Linked DNA regions of Homo sapiens: regions 2, 3, 4, 5 and 6 are each reported to be linked to region 1. The links are microRNA targets in miRTarBase. Many come from high-throughput screens and were not tested one by one. Region 1 holds a microRNA gene; each other region holds the end of a gene's coding sequence.
What was found. The annotated mature microRNA hsa-miR-9500 reads AAGGGAAGAUGGUGACCAC and lies in region 1 at 1,943-1,961, opposite strand. An mRNA with a match to its seed (bases 2 to 7 or 8) in the 3' UTR can be bound and repressed. Matches are read on the target gene's strand: a 7mer-m8 pairs with bases 2 to 8, a 7mer-A1 pairs with bases 2 to 7 and ends in A, and an 8mer does both.

Region 2: the mRNA of TNFSF8 is a reported target of hsa-miR-9500. Seed matches in the 3' UTR shown: 8mer at 1,083-1,090 and 7mer-m8 at 2,464-2,470.
Region 3: the mRNA of ELFN2 is a reported target of hsa-miR-9500. Seed matches in the 3' UTR shown: 7mer-m8 at 2,475-2,481.
Region 4: the mRNA of MYH2 is a reported target of hsa-miR-9500. The part of its 3' UTR that is shown has no 7-base or 8-base seed match.
Region 5: the mRNA of ARHGEF18 is a reported target of hsa-miR-9500. Seed matches in the 3' UTR shown: 8mer at 516-523 and 7mer-m8 at 2,350-2,356.
Region 6: miRTarBase lists EIF4E3 as a target of hsa-miR-9500. Seed matches in the 3' UTR shown: 7mer-A1 at 1,964-1,970 and 7mer-A1 at 1,028-1,034.

Annotation. Positions count from the first base shown.
Region 1 is chr2:218,820,966-218,825,052 of GRCh38, reverse strand. It overlaps MIR9500 (microRNA 9500), which reads right to left and starts at 1,963; the gene lies at 1,899-1,963. It overlaps PRKAG3 (protein kinase AMP-activated non-catalytic subunit gamma 3), which reads left to right. Exons shown (of 14, transcript NM_017431.4): 11 at 477-514; 12 at 685-831; 13 at 1,175-1,407; 14 at 1,977-2,745. The coding sequence ends at 1,291. RefSeq lists an enhancer at 992-2,191.
Region 2 is chr9:114,900,423-114,904,509 of GRCh38, reverse strand. TNFSF8 (TNF superfamily member 8) reads left to right here. Exons shown (of 4, transcript NM_001244.4): 4 at 185-3,365. The coding sequence ends at 579. Among named protein-coding and RNA genes, the nearest start is that of TNFSF8, 28 kb to the left of the region's middle.
Region 3 is chr22:37,369,349-37,373,435 of GRCh38, forward strand. ELFN2 (extracellular leucine rich repeat and fibronectin type III domain containing 2) reads right to left here. Exons shown (of 3, transcript NM_052906.5): 3 at 1-4,087. The coding sequence ends at 3,724. Among named protein-coding and RNA genes, the nearest start is that of ELFN2, 56 kb to the right of the region's middle.
Region 4 is chr17:10,517,495-10,521,581 of GRCh38, forward strand. It overlaps MYH2 (myosin heavy chain 2), which reads right to left. Exons shown (of 40, transcript NM_017534.6): 40 at 3,654-3,938. The coding sequence ends at 3,786. MYH1 (myosin heavy chain 1) reads right to left here and starts at 1,048. Exons shown (of 40, transcript NM_005963.4): 1 at 1,026-1,048; 2 at 746-776. The region is part of intron 2 of MYHAS (myosin heavy chain gene cluster antisense RNA); the gene reads left to right.
Region 5 is chr19:7,469,888-7,473,974 of GRCh38, forward strand. It overlaps ARHGEF18 (Rho/Rac guanine nucleotide exchange factor 18), which reads left to right. Exons shown (of 29, transcript NM_001367823.1): 28 at 17-142; 29 at 239-2,591. The coding sequence ends at 411. Among named protein-coding and RNA genes, the nearest start is that of PEX11G, 17 kb to the right of the region's middle. RefSeq lists a silencer at 3,268-3,317.
Region 6 is chr3:71,681,126-71,685,212 of GRCh38, forward strand. It overlaps EIF4E3 (eukaryotic translation initiation factor 4E family member 3), which reads right to left. Exons shown (of 7, transcript NM_001134651.2): 7 at 1-3,603. The coding sequence ends at 3,557. Among named protein-coding and RNA genes, the nearest start is that of EIF4E3, 42 kb to the right of the region's middle.

The DNA.
Region 1 (4,087 bases):
CCAATTGAAGTCCATGGTTTACATTCGTGTCTTTTGTTCCTTAAATCTCTTTAAATCTATAACAGCTCCATTCCCCCTAAATTGTTATGACGTGGGTGAGTTGAAAAGCCTGGGTCAGTTGTCCTATAGGATACCCCACATCCAGATTTGTCTGTTTGCTTTCTAGAGCTGGCCTTTACTTTGTTCTCTATTCCTGGGTTTCCTGTAAACTGAAATTATATCTAAAGGCTTGAAGAGATTTGGGCAATAAATTCGAGGCTAGACTATTTTGTAGGTGGTGCCATGTTACTCACACTGCATTTCCTCAGGATGCTCAATGTCAGGCTGTCTCACTCTGGGATGCTAAGTTTGATCCTTGGGTTCTGGTAGTGGCACCCTGATGCAAATAGCCCTAGGCCCTCTACACAGCACCCCGGTTCTGACCGGAGCCTCTTCCCTGTCTTTCTCCCCCCACCCCCCACAACCACCCTCTGCAGGTCAGGTCGTGGGCCTCTATTCCCGCTTTGATGTGATTGTAAGTGTCGCTGGAAAGGTGGGATGCTGCAGGGAGGCTAAGGGTGTGGGGATGGGTGGGGGGCCTCTGTGGACCAGGGGGACCTTGACAAGTATGCAGGGGTTGACATCTGTAGGGTAGGAGCCCAGGCAAGGGGGTGACTAGGAGCCATACTTCTCTCTCTGCCCCAGCACCTGGCTGCCCAGCAAACCTACAACCACCTGGACATGAGTGTGGGAGAAGCCCTGAGGCAGAGGACACTATGTCTGGAGGGAGTCCTTTCCTGCCAGCCCCACGAGAGCTTGGGGGAAGTGATCGACAGGATTGCTCGGGAGCAGGTACCGTGTGCCCTCCATTCATGCCCCCAACACATATAGCCCAGTCCTTCTCATGCACGGCTCCAGCCATCCCTGAACATCGGGCACCTGGCCTATCCTTCCATTTCATGACCAACTCCTGGTGCCCACACTGGCCTGCACCTGGTCCTGTCCATGGGGCCCTTATGCCAGGGGTCACTGCCAACTGATCACCTTAGGCCGGTCACACCATCCCTAACTGGTTTCTAGGAGACGCTCTCTCCCTCAGTCATGTTGGGTTGTTTCCCCTGATTCTTGGCACCAACCTCAGTAGCTGCTGTAGCCCCATGGCTCTGCCCCCTCACTGAACATTGCGGACCCACAGGTACACAGGCTGGTGCTAGTGGACGAGACCCAGCATCTCTTGGGCGTGGTCTCCCTCTCCGACATCCTTCAGGCACTGGTGCTCAGCCCTGCTGGCATCGATGCCCTCGGGGCCTGAGAAGATCTGAGTCCTCAATCCCAAGCCACCTGCACACCTGGAAGCCAATGAAGGGAACTGGAGAACTCAGCCTTCATCTTCCCCCACCCCCATTTGCTGGTTCAGCTATGATTCAGGTAGGCTCTGCCCTGGGCCATGACACCAGCCTCTTAGTCTTCCTGATTTCCTGGATCTCAGATTGGGACACCCTGAGGATGGGAGTGGCCAAGCTCAAAGCTGAGCAGCCCTGTGAAAACTGCAAGTGTAAGGACTCACAGGTCCCCACTTTGTCCCATTTTCAGCTGAGGTCATGGAGACTGTCCTAGAAGGGAGGGACAAAGCCCCGGCTAAAAGCTAAGGCTGCGATGTGACTTCAGACACTCTGGGAAGATTTACTTGTTCCCTCACAATTCAATTTCCACCTGCTGGAAATCCCCTTAGAAGGAAGCAAGCTATATCAACATTTGTTGGATGGAATTTCCATCCCCAGTAAGAACTAAAGCTTAAAGGAAGGAGCTTCTACCTACGTGCTCATCTCAGGAAATGTGACATGATCTCAGACTCTTTCCTGGTCACACGTTTGCTAGGGGCTTGCAGAGGATGGGCACAGATTCCATCTACTCACCATGGCTGGCAAGGGTCCCCTGTTGGAAAGGCCGCTGTCCCTCCTATGTGGTCACCATCTTCCCTTTTCTTTTCCCCACAGGCTTCTTCAGCCCTCCCAAATTGCCCTTGCCCTACCTGTGCTCCCAGAAGCCCTCGGGCATGCCCAGTGCACCATGGGATGATGAAATTAAGGAGAACAGCTGAGTCAAGCTTGGAGGTCCCTGAACCAGAGGCACTAGGATTACCCCAGGGCCATCTGTGCTCCATGCCCGCCCATCCCCTTGCCGCCTGACTGGGTCGGATGGCCCCAGTGGGTTTAGTCAGGGCTTCTGGATTCCTCGGTTTCTGGGCTACCTATGGCTTCAGCCTTCAGCTCCTGGGAGTCCCAGCTGTTGTTCCCAGCAACGTCGCCACTGCCCTCCTACTCTCCAGGCTTTGTCATTTCAAGGCTGCTGAAATGCTGCATTTCAGGGGCCACCATGGAGCAGCCGTTATTTATAGAACTGCCTGTTGGAGGTGGGGAGTCCTCCCTCCATTCTTGTCCAGAAAACTCCTTAGCTCTCGCAGTGAGCCATGTTCTTAGTCTCCAGGGATGGATGGCCTTGTATATGGACCCCTGAGAATGAGCAATTGAGAAAACAAAACAAAAGGAACAATCCATGAACTTAGATTTTATTGGTTTCACTCAAAATGCTGCAGTCATTTGACCTGAACTTGTGGCAAGAGACTTGTGCTTTCTAAATTCAAAGACTAGAAGGAAAATGGATAAAAATCACAAGTGCCGTTTCTCTTGCAATGTAGCGCTATTCTACTGAAATTTCTTTCTTCTCTTTTCTTTACAAAATCATAAAGAAAAAATTAATTCATTACTTATATAGTAGGTACAACTCAGCCTACAAACTCTAATCTGCAAGAAGCATAACTTTATTTTTCTAACACAGAATGTAATTTCTATTAGGAACCCCGTTTCAGCAGGTGGTAGAAATTAATCTCAGTCAATTCAAAGTCTCCCCCTGACCTTTTCCTGGGGTTAAGCTCGGTCGGGTGGGGGTGTGGCTTTAAGTCATGTAAGACTCTGTTCCTCGGCTATCATCATCCGTCCATGCTCGCACCTGCCTGGACATCCCCTCCCCATCTGGTCATCAGTTGGTCATGCAAGGTCTGCCAGGGGCTCCTTCACTTCCACAAAGCCTATTTGGGGACCTGTGGCTTGGAGCATGTGGAAGATTCTAGCTCCTGGCCCTGCACACCCTCTGGCTTCAGGAAGCTCAGTAATTCTGTTCCAGGCCAACTGCTAAGATAGACAGCCCAGTCCCTTGTTCCGCTCTGTGGCTTGCTGTTTTCCCAGGCTCTACCCAGGAAGCGTGTGGGTTCTTCTACCCAGTGCTTGCCTACACTTATCACCTCCAAACCTATATGGAGTATTTGTCATACTTTCCCCCTCTTTAGCCGCAACCTCCTTCTCAGGGTCCTTTTCTCAAGAATTCCAGAAATGTCAACATTCGCCTTGCTCCCCAAGCCCTGCCAACCTATGGAATCTTGACCAGTGGGGGAGAGAGGAGGCTTTTATTCTTTAACCCATCATATATTCTTCCAAATGCACTGTAAGTGTCCTGAGTTCTTGCCACCCACCTTCAGAATCAAGCTTTTAAAATTCCAAAGCCAAGGCTCGCTTCTGCTATGTCACCTTCCCTGTGGCAACGGGCACCACATGTCTGGCTGTCCAGAGAAGGGGGAGATTACTGTCTCTAAAACATGACCCCTTCCCCTTACCTCACAGAGCGAGAAGGCAGAGGCTTTGTACTGAATTGGTTGGACCATAAATGAAGATGTTCCCTCACTAGACATTTTGCCAAAACCTGAGGGTCAGTGCTGGCTCTGCTGTGGTCCCGCCCAGGGAAGGTCCAGGGTCTTGGGCTCAAGGGAGAGGATTGGAGTTGGGTGATGGTTGGGTCTGGGCCCAGAGAGGATCTCTCCAGTGACAGTGTTCCTGGGGAGCCTAGGGCTCTGGGATCTTGTAACAGGTCAGTCCTTTGAGGCTGTGCCTCTGGGTGGCTCTGCTCTGTGGGACCTTCTCTGTAAGGGCACATGCCACCCTCCCTGCCTCAGACCCCTCCTTTGGTCACAGCCCGGCCCTTGCAGCCATGATGGCTGCTAGAAAAGAGTCACGGAGTTTCCACCGGGGCTGCGGCGGCTGCTTCTTCCACTCCA
Region 2 (4,087 bases), not on the chromosome of region 1:
TTTTATACCTGTGCCTTGAGTAATAAGTAGACTCTAGAGGGAGTAACATGGAAGATATTCAGATGATTGGAACATTACAGAAAACATGGGTCTTGAATGGGAAACTTTGAACAAAGACTTAGAATTTTGCAATGCGTACCTACAATCTTCTCAATAATTCTGTTTTCTATACTTCTCTTTCTAGTGGCAAAGCATCTAAACAAAACCAAGTTGTCTTGGAACAAAGATGGCATTCTCCATGGAGTCAGATATCAGGATGGGAATCTGGTGATCCAATTCCCTGGTTTGTACTTCATCATTTGCCAACTGCAGTTTCTTGTACAATGCCCAAATAATTCTGTCGATCTGAAGTTGGAGCTTCTCATCAACAAGCATATCAAAAAACAGGCCCTGGTGACAGTGTGTGAGTCTGGAATGCAAACGAAACACGTATACCAGAATCTCTCTCAATTCTTGCTGGATTACCTGCAGGTCAACACCACCATATCAGTCAATGTGGATACATTCCAGTACATAGATACAAGCACCTTTCCTCTTGAGAATGTGTTGTCCATCTTCTTATACAGTAATTCAGACTGAACAGTTTCTCTTGGCCTTCAGGAAGAAAGCGCCTCTCTACCATACAGTATTTCATCCCTCCAAACACTTGGGCAAAAAGAAAACTTTAGACCAAGACAAACTACACAGGGTATTAAATAGTATACTTCTCCTTCTGTCTCTTGGAAAGATACAGCTCCAGGGTTAAAAAGAGAGTTTTTAGTGAAGTATCTTTCAGATAGCAGGCAGGGAAGCAATGTAGTGTGGTGGGCAGAGCCCCACACAGAATCAGAAGGGATGAATGGATGTCCCAGCCCAACCTCTAATTCACTGTATGGTCTTGATCTATTTCTTCTGTTTTGAGAGCCTCCAGTTAAAATGGGGCTCCAGTACCAGAGCAGCTAGCAACTCTGCCCTAATGGGAAATGAAGGGGAGCTGGGTGTGAGTGTTTACACTGTGCCCTTCACGGGATACTTCTTTTATCTGCAGATGGCCTAATACTTAGTTGTCCAAGTCGCGATCAAGGACTCTCTCACACAGGAAACTTCCCTATACTGGCAGATACACTTGTGACTGAACCATGCCCAGTTTATGCCTGTCTGACTGTCACTCTGGCACTAGGAGGCTGATCTTGTACTCCATATGACCCCACCCCTAGGAACCCCCAGGGAAAACCAGGCTGGGACAGCCCCCTGTTCCTGAGATGGAAAGCACAAATTTAATACACCACCACAATGGAAAACAAGTTCAAAGACTTTTACTTACAGATCCTGGACAGAAAGGGCATAATGAGTCTGAAGGGCAGTCCTCCTTCTCTAGGTTACATGAGGCAGGAATAAGAAGTCAGACAGAGACAGCAAGACAGTTAACAATGTAGGTAAAGAAATAGGGTGTGGTCACTCTCAATTCACTGGCAAATGCCTGAATGGTCTGTCTGAAGGAAGCAACAGAGAAGTGGGGAATCCAGTCTGCTAGGCAGGAAAGATGCCTCTAAGTTCTTGTCTCTGGCCAGAGGTGTGGTATAGAACCAGAAACCCATATCAAGGGTGACTAAGCCCGGCTTCTGGTATGAGAAATTAAACTTGTATACAAAATGGTTGCCAAGGCAACATAAAATTATAAGAATTCACTATACCTTCCCCTCCCTGGAACTCAGGATCCAAGTCTAGAAAATGAAAGGACTGGGTTTGAATTGCTTCAAAACCTCTTCCATCTCAGAAGACCAGACCCTGGGAACTGAGATTCCAGACACAATTTTGGAAGCTCTCCAACCAAAATAAGGCCCCCCTACCCCAGTATATAATTGAAGACACTAGTAACACCTGACTGCATCTCATCTCAGCAGAGCCAGAATATGGGGACAAGGTTCAGGGTGCCCTGCTGAATGGTGTGAACAGCAGGATCTCAAGGATGTAATGGAAAGAACTACCACACTGACCATCCAGAATCTAAGAGACCATCTGGGTGTTTGGGAAACCATCTGACGAGGCCTGACTCTATTCCAGTTAGATTGACAATAATTGAGCAGCAGGCATTTTTCATTTCTGGTCAGGAAAGCATTGTGCCTTTAGCAAACAATCAGTGTGCAACAGTGATGTGGTCATCTAGCCAGGGAATGGCTGCTCCATCCCCTGCATAATATATTCCTGCTTCAAACACCTCTCAGAAAACCAGTTCCGCGAGGGTTTTTATATCCCCACAAAGTTGTTGAGAGACAATGATGACCCTGGAAGTGGGGAGGAGGACTTCTGAGAAACAGCAACCTCTCTCCTGATTGGGGTAGCCATGAGATTTCTCTAGCTATATCCAACTTGGCATCTGTACATCATCTTTGGAGGAACATCTTATTTGTGGAAGGACCTTGACAAGCCGTTTGAGATGGAATGTAGGCCCTGATGTTATGCTTCAGTAAAAAAAGATGGAAGCTTCCCTGCTATACCAAAACATGGAGCAAAATTTGCATTTTTCTCAAGAAGGAGAGAAAAGGAGTAGGACTCCAGCAAAGTTTGTCAGAAGGAAAGCTAGAAAAGATTTAAAAGAAAAAAAGAAAGAACAAATCAGCAGTGGTGGTATGGATGAAAGGGACTTGAGAGAACAAAAATGGCTAAGGGAAAATTTTAAGTCATCTGCTGAGCAGTGTGCTGTGTCAACCTCCTCCTAGGTCTCCTCTATGAAATATTTAGTAAAGTCTACATTTCTCTTTAACTCTTTCTGTGAGTAGATTCTTTGGGAGAAGCAGGCATTGGAAGAGGTGTTGAATTCAGCAAGCCAAATGGTCTGTGGTAAAAAACAAAACAGACTTTGAGACTCAAGGCTAAAAAAACAGGGAAATGGCTGGCATTTGAGTCACACACTAACTGCATAGGACAAATGAATCTTGCTTAAACCAACTCATGCATTCTTGAAAAGGTATATGCAACCCAACTGTGTGTTAACTAAGCAATTTTTTTGCCATCTCACATTCTAACTCGAGAAAGATTCCATTTTCATTTTTCACCAACTGTTCTCTGAGCAGAGGTACCTGACTTTTGCACTGTGAGTGGTTTCTAATCTCAGTCTCTGTCAAGCAATGCTAAGAAAGCCAACACCTAAAGACACAAGGGGTACATCATTTAAATGAATAATGTAACCAAACAAACAAAAAAAGAGAATAATCATTAATAACTCAACTGATAGATATGTAGGGAGTAGGCAACCCAGGAAGTTTAAAACTAAATTCTGTTACTCTTGAGGGTTAACCAGCCCCTGGGAATGTTATGAGCAAATGATACTCCATGAGTAAAATGATATCTATGCAAGTAAAATAAATAATTTATCTAACTGGGAACTCAGGCTACCTAAAACATATGCCTCTTTGGTAAAAACTCAACTTGAGCTCCTTCCCTTGCTCCTACCCTCTGAACCCCACCTCCCCACCACACACACACACACACACACTCAGTGTACTTGCAGAACTTGTAGAGGAAGATGGTAAGTGAGCTCACAAAAACATAACAAGTCAATGTAGAGTCATCCAAACTGGAGTGGAGTGGTGCTATCTTGGCTCACTGCAGCCTCCCCTTCCTGGGTTCAAGTGATCCTCCTACCTCAGCCTCCTGAGTAGCTGGGACTACAGGCACGCACCACCACACCCAGCTGATTTTTGCGTTTTTAGTAGAGACGGGATTTCACCATGTTGGCCAGGCTGATCTCGAACTCCTGACCTCAAGCAATCTGCCCACCATGGCCTCTCAAAGAGCTAGGATTACAGGCGTGAGCAACCACACCTGGCCTCTAACCCTTTTCTGAATCATATATTGACCATGTACTGAGTCTATAGAGGATAGAGACCACCTGTGTCTCACATTCAAATCACCATCCCAGAGTGACCGGGGCGAGAGCAGGGAAGAGCAGAGGAAACCTCCAAATGTGGGGACTGTCCAAAGTAAGGTTGGAAAGACGTGACCTGAGGAATTGCAGAAAGGCTATAGGAGGCCCTATCAAGGCTGGTGGGAAATAATGGAGATTGGAATATGAGACTGGGCTCAAATGCCAGCTCTCTCACTAACC
Region 3 (4,087 bases), not on the chromosome of region 1:
TTACTCCCACCCTCCTCGCTCCCCTGACAGCCCTTTTCCCAGACCTACCCAGACACGGGCTCCCCAGCCTGGACACAGGCTGCTCCCACAGGCCTCCTGCACTGCCTCAGGAGGGGAGCCCAGGTGAGGGATTCTTTGGTGGGCAGAGAGAGACTCTTCCTGCCGCGGGGAAAAGCAAGGCCGGGACCCGTGACGAGGTTTCCCCACCAACCAGGCTTTCTTGCCTTCATGCCAGACCTCTGTGTTTTGCTACTGGAAGGCCATAAGCTCCAACAGAGGGTTAGCTGCACCTGCTGTGCCCTCCCAGGAAGGAGCAGACCCATTGTGCTACTTCCCAGAAACAGCTTCAGAGGAGATTCTCCAACAGAGGCAGGCAAGCCCAGGTGTGACCTTGTTCCGGCCCAAGGCAGGAGGCCTCCCCGCAGAGGTCCAGGGCGTGGCACCCACACATCCCTCGCTCCACCGGGCCTCCATCTCCCCTCCCTCCCTGTGGCCCCCCCTGCCCTCTTTTCCTGGTGTCTGCCCTGCTGGCCTGCCCCAGACCACAGCCCAGCTCCACCATGCTCATCATCATCACAAACCCAGACCTTGGATGGCAACATTTTGTGAATACTTCCCTCCCGCCTGGGAAAAACTCATCCTGAGCAGGACGTGGGACACAGATGCAGGCCAGCCTCCGGGTGGGCTCTCCCCAAGCTGAGCAGTTGGGGCTCTGGCCTGGCTGGGAGGCCAGAGACCCGAGTCTTAGACCCCGCTCTGCCTCACAAAGAACCACATGAACTGGGTCTTCAAGGCCAGTTCCCCTCCTGGATCATCAGAGTCCTGCTCTTTGGAAGGGCCCCTGTCCCTGCAGTCAGAGAGTCTGAGGTTTCCTAAATATCTTCACGCAGAAAGGATGGGGAAATGGCAAGCGCAGGCCCCTAACTCCTGCTGCTGGGAACCCTCCCTGGGGCCCAGCCCAGGCGTGCTCCTTCTTCCCACGGGTTCCTTTCTCAAAGCCCCCACCCTCTCCCTGAAGCCCCCCACGAAGCCCCAAGCTCCTGGCCTCCTACACTCAGCAGTGTGACTGATCCTCCACCCCAGCTGGCCAGCCAATTCACCAGGCCCGTCTGGGAGCCCTGACTTCCTCATCTACAAAACGGGAACAAGCGGGACGGACAGACAGTCCCTTCCACCGGGACAAGAGCCCTTGAGGAGGCTTCCCTGGGGCTGCCCTCCCTGGCATGGAGGAGGGGAAGGAACTGGGGACAAGGGAGGTGGCAGTGGAGAGAGGGAGGGAGGAAGGGAGGTGGCACATGGGCCCAATGCTCAGAAACACAGGAGGTGGGTGTGGGGCAGGGCTGTGTCTTGGTGGCACCTGTTTTGGGTCTGTTTTTGCAGAGCTGACCCCTCCCTGGGTTTCAAGAGCTGCTCGTCAGATCACAACAGACAGAATGTGGGAAAGCAGGGCATCAGAGAGGGGGCGGGGGAGTCTGGACAAACTGGCACATACACGACAGATGTTTGCTCAGAAAAATACAGTAAAATCGTCATGCAAATATAACAGGGAGTCTGCTTCCTCACACCCCTGGCTTCTCTGCCTGCTTGCTTTTCTCAGTTGTGCCAAGGGGGTGTGAGGAGGGGTTGGGGGGCAGGTTTTGGGGGCCGGGGGAGGAGGTCTGCTCCGCGTATCCATGCCGCCCCCTCCCCTCCTCGCCCCAGGAGAACAGTCTTTTCTTTGCAAATGTCACCCTCAAAGTGAGCCCTGGGCTTCGTTAACCCCAAAGTTGGTGTGAGAGAGGTACTCAGCTGAGCCCGAGCCTCCTAGCCCTCTGCTGTCCTCCCTCACCCCCTGCCCCCAGCAGGAAGGTCGTTGGGGTCCCCAGGGGATGGCACTAGCTTTCCTGGTCAGAGCCCCTGCCCACCAACAGTGCCGGTCTTGGACCCATTCCAGTGCCTACCCTCGCCCCTCAGTCACACTCCCCAAATCTCAGGAAACCCATGTGGGCCACAGGCCCTAGACTGGGGGTCTCTGGCAGGGGCGTGGGGAGAGCCGGGGCCCCCCAAGCTGAGGTGGGTGGCAGCCAAGCGACATGTTGCTAGGCGGGCAAAGCTGCTAGTAGAGGCGTCCCCACACCCCGCTGGGCCAGCTCCCACCCAGAGGTGAAGGATGATGGACTCCGGCCCATCAGCATCCTGACTGGTCAAGACCCCAGTCTCAGGACCGCAGATTTGCCTCCCAAAAGAGCTGGCCCCAGGAGCTGCTGCCAGGCTGGCCCTCCCTCACCACCCTCTGCCACCGCCTACATGGACAGAGAACCCCAGAGCCCAACGGTCACTCTGGGCACCAACTGCCAGGCACAGGGTTACCATGGTGACAGAGGCTGGCTGGGAGGGGCTGGGGCGCCACGAACCCAGCCTGCTCCTCAACCCTCTCTCGGGTGGGGGCCTCACTGTTTGTGCTTTGTTTGATGTTGGGTGGGGGGGTCAGAAAGAGGGAAGTGGCCATTGCCACGGAAACATGGGAGCCCCTCTGGCCAGGGGGCCAGGCCTGGATGAGCAGCCCAGAGGGGATGGGTGAGAAAGCCCTCCTTCCCCGGGTGGGCGGCTGAGATAGGAGCCGAGATCCCACGATGGGGTCGGGCAGGTGGGGACACAGGCCATGGGGACAGGCAGGAAGTCCCCCATGACAGCTCCTCCCTGCAGCCCTCCAGGCATCACAGTGCACCGCTGCCCTTCTGCGGTGGGCAGGGGTCTCGGAGGACCAGAGAAGCTGGGGCCGGGAGCCTGCACCTGAGACGTCCTGGGAGCTGGCCTGCCCGCCACACGCCCCACTCTTCCCAGGCCACGTGGAAGACACTTGAAGTGGGCTGGTGGAATGTCGCCCTGCCTCGGCTCCTTTCCCGTCAACAGGACCCTCTCCCTTCTCCCGGGTGCCGGCATAGGGGTCAAAAGCCCCCCAGGATTCTGAATCACAGCTGCACACTCTGGGGGCACTGCCATGTGGCTTTCTAGGAAGAAAAAGCACCTGCCTGATTCCCAAGTCCCTCAGCCCCAAGGGACCACAGCTTCGGAAAGGGATGTGGGGTGGGCACAGGGCGGGCAGGGGTCCACAAGAGAGCTGCAGGGGGTTCCGGGACAGCACTGGGCTGGGAAGTTGGGGGACTTGAGGCTAAGCTGCTGTGTGACCCTGGGGTTGTCAACTCCCTTCTCTGGGCCTCAGTTTCCCCCCCTCTCTAAAGTGGAAGGAGACATTGCCCGATGTCTAATGCTAAATCTGCAGGTGACTTGACTCCCAGCTTGGGAAGGGACCCTCTCCCTGCCCTAGAGGGGCTTCAGTCCCTCTCTACTCCAGCTTTCTTGACCCCCACACCTGTTTCTAGCCCCAGACCCCCCAGACCCCACACCCTCTCTTGGCTTCCTTCCTCCCCCCGCCAGCCCCCCGGCCCTGCACACCCCAGCAGAGTCCCTGGGCAGCACAGTAAAGACGACTGGTTTCGGTATCAGTTTGTAAACTTTAAGGAAAATGTGTCTCTGTTTTCCTGTCCGTTATTGTCGGATGTTGGTTTGTTCACAGTCGGGTGGTGGTCAGGTGTGTGTGTGCGTGCGTGCGTGCGGGTCTGCATGTGCGTCCTCTCCTGGGCCTTGGCCCCCGAGTCTGCTCCCCGCCCTGGCCGCCTGGACCCTTCCCCCAAAAGGCCCCCAGCCCTCTGGCTCCGACCTCACCAGGGAGGAAGGGGGGGGTCACAGCTTCTGCTGGGCGGAGACCCCCTTCCAGTAATCAAGGATGTCATGCAGATCCTCGTCCTTGGCGAACTGGACCTTCTTGCGCAGGGCGTGACCGGCGGCCATGTACACCTCCTCCCGGTGGTGCTTCTTGTAGGGCCGGAAGCGCTCCCAGATCTTGTGCGTGCTCTCGGATGAGTACTCGGGGCTGGAGGAGTACCCTGAGTAGTAGTGTCTGGGGGAGAGCTGCGAGTAGGTGGAGTCACGCTTGGAGCGGGTCAGCGGCTTGAGGAAGGACACGCGCTGGCTCAGGCTGTCGGCACCCTCCTCGTAGTACAGGGCGGGAAAGCTGTGCCGGTGCTCGCTGCAGTGGTAGGCCGGC
Region 4 (4,087 bases), not on the chromosome of region 1:
TCCCCCTCTTGCCACATTAGCTAGCATTCATTAATGCTGTCAATAATCTTCATGTATATTCTACTTTATAATAATAAAGATACCTTTTCCAGGGAAGCTCATTTGGATACATTTCTCCCATTGAAACTATGTTGACTCAGATAACATAATTAAAATGCTTCATCTTGCTGAATATGCTGACAATCATGTTTCGTATTGTGTGTGTGTATATATACATATGTGTGTGTGTGTGTGTATATATTCGTTAATTTTTATTTTATAGATTGTGAAACAACATGCAGTTAAGCAACTTTTTCCAAGGCAAAGATTCAGACCATTCTATTTATCCAATTAGACATCATCTCTCATAGGTTTTTATATTTATAGTGCTGAGGAAAAGCCATGGTATAGAAAATTTAAATTTTCTCTATAATTGAGTAACACTTTGAAATGTTACATTGCATATTGTAATGCAGTCATTTAAAAGATAAACTACAATGCTGGAAATAGTGAATGAAATTCACTATTGTGAATAAAATTCCCAAGGACTCTGAGAAAGCATTTTCATATATTGCGAGGGATATGAGTTAAGGAGAACCAGTTTCTAAAGTCATTCTCCATTTTTTAAGAGAAGCGTGATCAACCATGAAATGGAAATGATTTTTTTTATCACTTCCCTCACCCCGCCCCTCACCACTGTCCAAACCACTGCAGAAGATTCCTTGCACTCTGTGAGGAATGAGAAAAAAAAAAATCAGAATCTTACCGTAGAGATGCGACCTTAAAGTGGATCAGAACTGTAAGAAAAAGAGCAAACCTCTTCTGATTAAATTATAACAATTCCCGATTATAGAACAATTCTTAACTGAGAACCAGGAAATGACTGGGAAGACTACAACATCTAATTAAAATTGCTACGGAGTAAGCTGGTGCTTCACTGGCAGGGCTGCCAGGGACAGTGGGAGCCAGGATGTGTGGCATGCACGCGGGCAGCCAGACATCCCTTACCGTCCTCCAGACAGAGCCCTGTCCTCACACACACTTACCTTGAAGCTTTATGAGGAGAGACAAGTCATACTCATTCCAAGGGTACTTTTATAGGCTCAAATATGGAAAACACGTAACCTCCTCCTCTTTCTTAAAACATATTTGGCAAAACATGTTTTTGGCATTGAAGGTCTCCAAGCCTAATTCCCCTCATATTAAAGATGTTTGGATATAATTAGAAATATTTCCTCTCATATTGGGTTAAGTATATGAATCAATCTCCTATAAATAATTTGAGTCGTTGGCAATCTTAAAGTTGTTGGCCTTTGGAATGTAAGGTGTTGTTTCAAAGACAGCTAAGTTCTGGAATCCCTGGACTTTGTTGCCTACTGCTCTTCTGTTTCACAGAGTCGCCTGTGTGAAGTCTTTTCAACTGCCTGCGCAGTTACAGATAGTGTACTCGGGAGGAAAACTTCTGCTCTTTAGCAGAGGGTTATAAAAACGTTGCTTTCTCTCAAAAAGATTTCCTTTTTTTTTTTTTTTTTTTTTTTGCAATTTATTGTGCTTTTTCAAAGTTGCTTGGAAATTTAATTTTGAAACTTGCTTCATGAAGAGCAGCCAAAGATAGCTTCTTTTGTTTCCTTCAATCAGTCGCCTCTTATTCATTGTCAAATCATTCCACCGGCACTTCGGACTTGCTCCGAAATTGCATTGCCTTCCAAACAGAGATGTCCTGCTTCTCTCATTTTTTTTTGGTGCCCAAGTTGCTTGTGAAATCTTGTTTCCTCTATGAAACTCAACATAAGAAAATATTGGAAACAGGGTATTTCTCTGTCTAAATATGCAGCATCGATGATTTTTCCTCTATCAGCAGTCCATGGGATATATTTAGTATTTTGCTTACAAACAATACCTGAATATTGTTTTCTATTTTAATTTTTTAAAAAAGTTTATTTTACTGTCTTTGTGGCCTCACGTCTCTGTCTGTCAGCATTGTCTGGCTAGGACTGGGACAACATTTGCTTAATATACCTGGTTTTGCACCCACATCTGTATTATTGTACTTATATCTCAATTGATTTAATGGCTATAGCTTGCCTTATGAAAGGAGATATCTGGATATACTAGTTGTAAAGGTCACATAGTTTTATTACCATAAGGGATCATCTAATTCATCTTTCTCATTTTACTAATAAAGCAACTGAGATCCAAAAAATAGAAGAGAATCTCCACAAATCACACAGCAGTTTAGACTCTGGTCATCTGACTTGCGGTCCAGCGTACTCACTTGTGACACTCTTCTACCTGGGGTAGATTAAAGCCATCAGGAAGGGTATTGCAGGGATGTGCGTCTGAGAGGGCCTTTCCTAGCCATCTATTAGCCTGCTTTGTTACCACAGGTACCTAATTTTACTTTCTTACATGTCTGTTTCTTTACTAGGCACCTGCAAAATGTGGGTAATGATTTTCAGGAAGATAAAACATTTTAATAATGCTCTCAATAGGATCTGATGGGAATCTTCAGACAACCTTTTGTCTTGCTCTGGATAAACTTTTCAATAAGTAGGAAGTAAGATATTGTTTTTGTTTATTACTGCCACGTTATAAAGCACTTAAGCAATTCCACGTGATACAGGAACAAAGTGAAAGAGGGGCTTATGCAGCGAGAAGAGCAATTCCACACCCTTTCTAAGGCCAGTGCGACAGTGTGAATCCAACTTACCTGTTAAACTACCATGTCTAATTTACATCATTTTCACACAGTGCCATTTAGACCAAGATACTCTTGCTTTCTATTTGATGGGAAGTTACCATTTAGCTCTTCCTTTATTCTGTCGAGGAAGGTTATATTTTTGGCTATGCATCTCAGCTGCATCCAGTTTAAAAATCTTGATCCTCTAGGAAAACGTCTCTGAGTGGTCCAGATTGCTATGATATCTACTTTTTGTACCAAACTCATACCCATCATTATGTGTGTTGAATATAGATTTGAATAACCTACTTTGAGATCATATTTTCTTGACACTTTTAGTCATTTATTTTGGCTCTTTATATGATTATCTGGGAGACCATAAAGATTGGAAACATAAGCTAATAGCTCATGGATACTACATTATAACGTAAAAATAATATTCTCTATGTCTCCAGATTTGATAGACACCCTGTAGTTTTCATAGGGAGAAGAGTCATATTTAATTTAATTTTGAAACTTGCTTCGTGAAGAACAAGGTCGTGTCAAACCCATTACCCAGTGCACCTACTGTGGGCATATGGTACATTGGAATTGATAATGTAAATATCCATGGGCTAATTAAGAATATTTTGTATTTATATTCTTGATAACAGTTATTCAACAAAGAGAATTAATGATACAATTCAGTTTGAATCCCCTATGTGAGAATATAGCTAGTACTATCCTGAAAAAGGTTCATGTTAGGGGAAGCAGGAGCTTTCTAAGATTTTACTGTACTCAGATATCAGGAAAGGTTAGAAAGAAATAAAATAGACTTCCAAATTTCTGTTCATTAGAACAGTCTTTCTGGATAAGTGACATCTTTACAGCCTTAAAGTGTTGCCGTAGACCCCCAAAAAAGTCACCAATTGAATGTGATTGTTTGACAACTCTGGTGACTATTCAAACTTTGACATGGCTTCAGGAAAGAGAAAAGACAAGACCAGTCTAAGGATATTGTTTGCAAACTACCCTATGCTTTATTTCCTTTGCAACAGGGTAGAATACACAATAATTACAGAGGGAAATGACCAAAGATGTCACATTTTGTGCCTGTCTTCAGTCATTCCATGGCATCAGGACATGATCACTCTTCACTTATGACTTTTGTGTGAACCTCCCGGCTCTTCACCCGCAGTTTGTTCACCTGGGACTCAGCAATGTCAGCCCGTTCCTCGGCCTCCTCCAGCTCATGCTGGAGCTTGCGGAATTTAGCTAGATTGGTGTTGGATTGTTCCTCCTGAGAATAAAAATGGAATTGTAAGGAACTCATACTTGCATCTTTCTAGACTCTTTAGACCTAATAGAAGAAAGGACTTGGCATCTATGGAGAAGCAACATCTAGGGATTATCATTGAAATTAATTTTAAGATTTGTTTATTGATGTCA
Region 5 (4,087 bases), not on the chromosome of region 1:
ACCTTCTCTCTTCCAGCGTCCTTCGACCTGAAGCAGCAGCTGCTGCTCAACAAGCTCATGGGGAAAGATGAGAGCACCTCACGGAACCGCCGCTCGCTGAGCCCTATCCTGCCCGGCAGACACAGTCCTGCGCCCCCACCAGGTGAGCCCCCACCCCCTGACATGAGCCCAGTCCCAGGGCAGCGGGGCTGCGGCACCACCCGGCGACTGCTCAGTCTGAACCCTCTCTCTGTTCCAGACCCTGGCTTCCCCGCCCCGAGCCCACCGCCAGCTGACAGCCCCTCCGAGGGCTTCTCTCTCAAGGCCGGGGGCACAGCCCTCCTGCCCGGGCCCCCAGCTCCCTCGCCACTGCCGGCCACACCACTCAGCGCCAAGGAGGACGCCAGCAAAGAAGACGTCATCTTCTTCTAAAAGGGCCGTGACTCAAGGTGCAAGGCCCCTCCCTGCCCTGCCCACCCTTCCTGCTCTCTGGGGACCCCCATGGGGTCACCATGCCCACCCAGCTGTCCCCTCCTCTTCCCTAGCAAACCACTGATGACCGCCTGGCAGGGGCCAGCCTGTCGGTGCTCTGGGCCTTGCAGCTGTTTCTGTAGGGTTAGCGGTGGTGCCGGGGTCACTTTCTGAATCTCTTTTTTTTTTTTTCAAAAAGGAAAGTTTTTAATGGAAAGTTGAGCCAGAACTAAACCAGGGAGCTGTCTGAAATCATAGCACCCCATCCGGGTGGCGGGGAGATCAACTCCGAGCTGTTTTTCCGAGGCAGTGAGGAACGGTGCCGGCTCTGCACGGAGCTGAGGACAGGACAGACCTTGCTTTGAGAAGGAGCTGCCGGCCGGGGCCACGCTCCACAGCCGCCGCGCGACAGTGGAGCCAAGGGTTAGGGCACCAGGAGGGGCCAGGTGGCGTCGGCAGCATCTGTCCCCAGAATCAGGCAGAATCCACTTCCCAAACAGAGCCCCACGCAGGTTCACCATGAACCTCAGGGTCAGGGAATGAGCCAGGCACGGGGGCATGGGCAGAGAGGGCCACGGGGCAGGGCCCACTGAGGGAACATCAGTGGCCCTCCAGTCAGGTTCTGTGGGTTTGGAAGCCCATCGTGAAAGGGGCTGACCTTTGCCCCTTTTTACTTGGCATTGGTTTTGAAACCAGCTGTTTCCCAAACTCTGCTTCCCAAGGGCAACCGTTGCTGTTCACACGCTCAGCCTGTCTGGGGGAGCGGGCCTCTAGCTTCAGCCAGGGCGGGTACACACCCTGGGCACAGGGTCCTCAGCCCCCGGGAAATGAGCTCCCAGGGCTGGCGTCCCACCTTCCAGGTGGGGGCTGGCACATCACAGACTGTCGAGAGCGCCATGTCCCAGGGCATGCAGAGGATGCACCTAGAGACGTTGCAGCAAGTGGACAAGTGGCCGCTGTGCGGGCCCCTCGCTTGTAGTGAGCTGTTGCAGCTTACGGTCCGTTCCCTGGAGGGGTGGAGGAAGGAGGTGTTGGGCAGCATCAAAGGTGCTGGGACATCCCAGGGTGGTGAGATCCATCCACGATCCAGCTCCGGTGGAGAAAGGGCCCATGTCAAGCCTTGTTCTGCACCCCAAGCATTGGTGGTAGGACTGGGTCCTGGCTGATCGTCCTTGTTCCCAGTGGGGTACATGTGAGCCCCTGCCAGGGCCAAGTCCTTCTCCCGAACCCAGGGTCCTGGGAACTGCAGATCCCGGGGGGATTCAGCCCTTCTCCCACTGTGCTGGCAGAGGCACTCCTGTGACGCTGAATACAGTGAACAGGGACATTCCCGCCACTCGGGGACAGATGGGCACAAGGGAGGGGAAACTCCATCAGGAAGTGCTCCCCTGGGCAGAGGCGCCCACTGGGTGCTGTGGGCTCAGGAGGGGGCGGGGCAGGAGCTGGTGCCAACCGGGAACCAGAGCCCCACAGCCATACAGCCCATTGGTGACAAGGTCCTGAGAACACAGTGGCCAGGTGTCCCCAGGCTCCTGGCCCCTCCGACGACCTCAACTCTGCCCAGCCCGGTCCCTGGCCATCAGCGACGCTGTCCGCCCCCCGTCAGATCCCATGTGTGCCATGTTTATCATCAGTGTTTTGTATTTTTGTACTGAGTATCGGAGCACTTTACAGAAGCTGACTGTACATTCCTGTTCTGTTGTGAAGAGAACATTCCCAGACCCTGGCACCCTCCTGAGCCGGCGTGTGCCGGTCCAGCCCTCCGAGATGCCACAATTCCTTGGATGGGGGAGAAGTTCAAGGAATTTCTGCTCGGCCACGCGGTGGGAACCCCGCGTCCCCGCCATGTGGCAGAGGGGTCTCAGTCGTGCTAGGCATCGGGCGGCAGCGCCGACAGCCCTTCCCTCGCCAGTGCCCCTCGGCCACTCCTGGGTTGGAGCCCGATTTTATTTGTAAAGTTGACAGTCGAGCAAATGTTCCTATTTTCGTGGGATCTGCACACGTCTTTGTCAGTTGTGGTCATGATCTTAGTCACCTGCTAATTATTTTTACAATGATTACAACATTTCCTCACTGCGGGATATTTCTGACCCGCTTTAGAACTTAAGACCTGATTCTAGCAATAAACGTGTCCGAGATGAGCGGTGACTGGCGTGCACGTTCTTGGAGGTTTTATTTGAGGATTTTCTTCTGCCCAAACGTTGCTGCAGGAGTAGCAGGTTCTGTTGGGGGCTCCCCATGGCTCCTGCCCCTCAGCTCGCTCACCTGCCCTCCGTGTCCTGCTTAACGCTCTGAAGACCCCTTCAGGTCCAGTCCCCAGGAGTTGTTGGGGGTTTTGTTTTTGTTTTTGTTTCTGTTTTTTTGGTTTGTTTGTTTTTTTGAGACAGAGTCTTGCTCTGTCGCCCAGGCTGGAGACCAGTGGCAGGTTCTCAGCTCACTGCAACCTCTGCCTCCCGGGTTCAAGCACTTCTCCTGCCTCAGCCTCCTGAGTAGCTGGGATTACAGGTGTGCACCACCACGCCCAGCTAATTTTTGTATTTTTTTAGTAGACATGGGGTTTCGCCATGTTGGCGAGGCTGGTCTCGAACTCCTGACCTCAAGTGATCTGCCCGCCTCAGCCTCCCAAAGTGCTGGGATTACGGGCACAGGGCAGGAGTGGGGCGTGGAGGTGCCTGTGGAGGGTCCTGCCCACCGGGTACACTTCAGGCTTTGGTGGCGCCTCCACGAAAATCTTTTTGCTTTTAATCCACAATAACCGCAAAGGCTGGAACTTTCACTTCCTCCATCTGGGGTGAGAGGCAGCTTGGCCATGAGTATGAAATCATCATTTCCACCTGGTCTGAGTCCCGGTCCAGTGAGGCGAGGACCCTGCTGTTTCAACAGAGGGTTTCCCATCACAAGGGGACTAGGTGTAAAGTCGATCACTAGCTCACTAGGAAGCGCAAAAAGGGAACTCTCAGGCAGCACTGTCCACCAGGAAGATGATGCAGGCCACGTGTGGAATTTTTCATTTTTAGTAGCCATATTAAAAAAGTAAAAGGAGGGCCGGGCACAGTGGCTCATCCCTGTAATCCCAGCATTTTGGGGAGGCGGGGGCTGAGGCAGGAGGATAGCTTGAGCCCAGGAGTTCAAGACCAGCCTGGGCAACATAGTGAAACCCCTTCACAGAAAAATTAAAAAATTAGCCAGGTTGGCCGGGCGCAGTGGCTCACGCGTGTAATCCCAGCACTTTGGGAAGCCAAGGTGGGCAGATTACGAGGTCAGGAGATCGAGACCATCCTGGCTAACAAGGTGAAACCCCGTCTCAACTAAAAATACAGAAATTAGCCGGGCGTGGTGGCGGGCGCCTGTAGTCCCAGCTACTCGGGAGGCTGAAGCAGGAGAATGGCGTGAACCCAGGAGGCGGAGCTTGCGGTGAGCCGAGATTGCGCCACTGCACTCAGCCTAGGCAATAGAGCGAGACTCCGTCTCAAAAAAAAAAAAAAAAAAAAAAAAATTAGCCAGGTATGGTGGCGTGCACCTGTAATCCCAGCTACACAGGAGGCCAAGGCAGGAGGATTGCTTGAGCCTAGGGGTTCAAAGTTGCAGTGAGCTATGATCGTGCCACTGCACTCCAGCCTAGGCAACATGGTGAGAC
Region 6 (4,087 bases), not on the chromosome of region 1:
CTGGAGCGATCTAGCTTTGACACATTTTTATTAGGTGCATGAAAACTAAATGTCTTATTGCCAAGTATCATTTTTACATTTTCTCGTCAAATTTTTATAAAAGCTTAAGAGCAAAATGCAGTAGGATCTTAAAAAAATTCTACAAACATAGCTGGATAAATTCTGCTGCTGAGCCAGAACTGTTGGCTGGAAGGCAGCGCCACCATGCGATCGTTCCAAAGGCTGTCAGTTTTGTCTAAAGACACAAGCTGGGATCCTCTAAGAGTTGGGCAACTAATAGCAAAAGCCCACTTCCTGTCATAGGAAGGTTATTTTCAAACTCCAAACCCCAGCACCACTTCTGTCTCTGAGAGGGAGAGGGAGAGAAGGAGGAGCTGTTTACAAACAGGATGTCTGATTACGGAGTTACACCAGTGGCCAGATTGGATCAGATATTTAATGCTTGATTAGGGTGGCTAGTGGGCAGGTTAAGGCTGGCAGATTCTGAGTACTCTCCATTTAAGGACGCCTGCACCGGGATACAACTTGCCGACTTCAATACCCAGCTCTGTGGCTGGCTAGCCCTACGTCTTTAACAAGGGACAAGTTCGGCCAAGGCTCAGTTGGTGGATTGTATATTATGTCTATAGGACCCAATTATACCTAAAGTTTCTAAGCTATAAAGTCTTGTGACTGTGTGCATGGTGTAGACATGGGCTAAACTCAAGAAGAGGGGTGAGAAAGAGTCATCTTAATCTTTAATTTAAAGTTTATTAGAGTTGTGGTTTCCTTTTCATGTTTTTGCTTCATAAAGTGTACCACGAATCTAACAGCAATATTATATTAAATGTACATGTTTGCAGTAAATTACACCCTCATTTAAGAAATGTGGAAAAGTTGGGGGGAAAGAGGAAATCTTAAAACTGAGTTAAGTCAGCAGTTCAGCAAGTGCTTACGAAAGACAGTCAAAATATAGGCAAGTTACTTTAAATGGGTATTATTTGTCCTTACTTTCCCAATGTAGGCAAGTGCCTGTGATATAACAATTTAGGGAATAATGGGAGAATAAAAAGCATATTAGTTTCAATCAGATTTCCTGGCATATATCACAGACCCTAAGGAATTACAAAGACAAAAAAGCAAGCTCTTTGGTTTCTGCATGGTTCTTTGCAGACTACAAGGCTGCCCCTGCAAGCACTTGGATGAAAAGACCGGGATTCTACTGGAAGTTTGCACTTTCCCCACATCAGCCAAGATGGGTAAACTGCCTTAACACAAAAGTCACATGCCCCACAAAATATTTCCTTCTATCTCAAAACAGTATTAGCTTCTTTAATCTAAGAAGGTAATGAGAGGTTTTTAAACTGATTAAATCAGCTTAGTTCATACAAAGTCTATTATGATTAAATATTCAATTAAAACAATTTCCAAACCAAAATCTGACAAAATCCTCTCTGAAAGTAATTTAGATGATAGGTTTTTAACATTAGGCAAATTAAATCCTTCTCACAGTTGGTATTTTCTAAAGGGTCAGAAACAGTTGCAGAAGTTCACTGGGGCAAAAATCTACTTTGTGTGCTAGTCATGTTCCATGATCATAAACAGAAACTAGAAATATTAACGTGAGCCTAACATTCCTATTTATTTTTACTTCAAAGGCTACATACATGCAAAAGTTGAACATGTCATCACAAATGCTTTAAATAAAGTTCAAAAAATAAAAATACTTCAAAATCCATTTACTTATGGAAATATACATGACAATTAGAGTGAAGTCAATTATATCCTTTTTTCAATCAGAAAAATACTTATATTATAAAAAAGTTTTAATTCATGTCCAGAATAATTTTTTAAAATTCTTGAGTCATAATTTTAAAACAAGTTGAATGTTAGTACAATGTTTGGAGAAACAAGTCCTAGGCTTTTGCTAACTGGATCTGATATTCTTATACTTCATTTTGAAATCACTAAGGAAACTCAAGTTTAGGGAAAAAAAAAAAGCATTTTAAGAAACCTATGATGGTAAGTATTATGGCTGAGGTGGTTACTAACCAAGTGAAGGGCACAACTTCCATAAGCAGATAATGTTCAAAGTCCTTTAAAATGTTTGAATGGAGAATTTTATCTACAAACACATAGTGGAGGCTTAAAGTAGCCTCAAGTCTCTCTGCTGGTCAACACTGCAAGAGGAATTAAAAATCCCAGGTACAGTGAAGTTCTGAGTGCACTGCCCTTTTGAAAAATGTGTGAGCAGGCACTAGCTCCCGTGACTCCAAAGCCGACTGGGGGAAGTGTCTTCAGATGGCCCTGCCCTTTATCAGGCAAAAGCAGCCAAAGGCTTGGCAAAGTCAGGAGAGGGAAATCAGCGTATTCTGAGCTAGTCTCCATGGTCCAGAGGATGACCATTTCCTTCTAATAAAACCAATATTTCTTTGGTAGCATAATACAATATATATCAACAATCCCAATAATTCATATGAGCAGAATGCACTCAAAGTTCAACTTTGTAAATGTTCACATGCATCCTGGAAATGAGATTTAACTTCCTGCACCTACATGAAAAAGGGTGGGGACAGCTGCCCAGGCTGGAGGACTACTGATGATGAGAAATGACACACAATGTGAGCAGGGAAAGGGATCATTTAACAAAATGTGTTAGCGTTGACTGGGAAAGAAAGCCCTAAGTGGGTAAACACACCCGAACTTTGCAAGGAGCTTAATTCAAACAATTAAAATATCACCTTCTCTTTAAATCAGAAACATCAGGTTTCCTATTGGAAGAAATCCCTTGCTACCACTCTAAGCCTTTGGTTGAAAAGGCCAAATTAAAATTCGGGTTAGAAATGTTTCCACAGAGGGTCCAAAGACTTAGAGCTTGATTTATATCCTGATACTGAATTGTGATTATAGTTTTCATGTTATGCAATCCAACTATTATTTTCCTTTTATCACTAAAAAAAAATGTTTTAAAAAGGAAAATTAAAGATTTGTGTGCTGTCAGTGCAAAATCACATTAAGTATGGTTTTTCTTTTCCCTGGGACAGAAAAAAACAATGCCCAGCTCACAGTACATAGGAATGTGTCACAACAAATAATCAGAAGACAGATTTCTCCAAGCTAGTGTTCCTCCTTGTACAGTGTGGTATTCAAAAGCAGTATTGTCACGATTATGCATATTCTCATTAACTAGGTACAGCAGAGCTACTTAAAGGGAAACCCATTTCTTGTGCCTCAATGAAAGGGGAGTGTAGAAAACAATAATTAGGCTGAATAAGGAATTTTAAACGGCAAAAAAAAAAAAAAATCAGAGTGAAAAGAACAGAGAATTTAGAAAGCCAAAAAAAAAGTTTTTTGTGTGTGTTTTTTTTAAAAAGCAAGTAATGTGACGGTAGAAACCCACACAATCTCCCCCCACCCCACCTGCCACTTTGAGTCCTAATTGCCCATCTGCAAGGACAGAAACCCACTCTAAATTGACCAGCATCGGCTTCGGCAAGTCTTCTCTTCACTCTCCCTCCTGTTAAGACCGTTTCCAAAACCAATCAGCAAAGGACAAAGAATTCTTTACAGAGTGCAATTAGTGTTTTCCACGTCCACCTTCAAAAGCATGATGCTCTTCATGGGCTAAAGGACAGAAAAAAAACAAAAAAGAAAAAAAGGAAAGAAAACTTTAAGCAAAGGATGGGCCAACCCTCCTCTAGGCATCTCATTCAGCTTCCCCAAATGTTGGCAAGAACTCAAACACCTTATTTATTTATTTATTTTTTTGCCAGTAACTGTTAGCTAAGGCGTGCATTTCCTGAGAAACGTAATAATGAAAATTAAAACAAGGAATAAACAAGCAATGGGCATGCTGCCTGTTTCTTCTTGCTGTGCCTGGGAGGATGAGTCATCTCAGCAAGCCGATGAAGAGAGTATGTTGGGCTGCAAGCAAATGCCGCAGGGGAAAATGTGCCCCACAAAATGCATTGCAGGGGGTGGGGAGAGGGGGTGCCTGACACAACCCAAGACAGAGCCGCTTACAAGCCTATCTTTAAAAATAAACTAAAAATAAAACAAAACAAAGAACCACACCAGGGTGACAGCAATTATATCTAGGTGCCCCTGC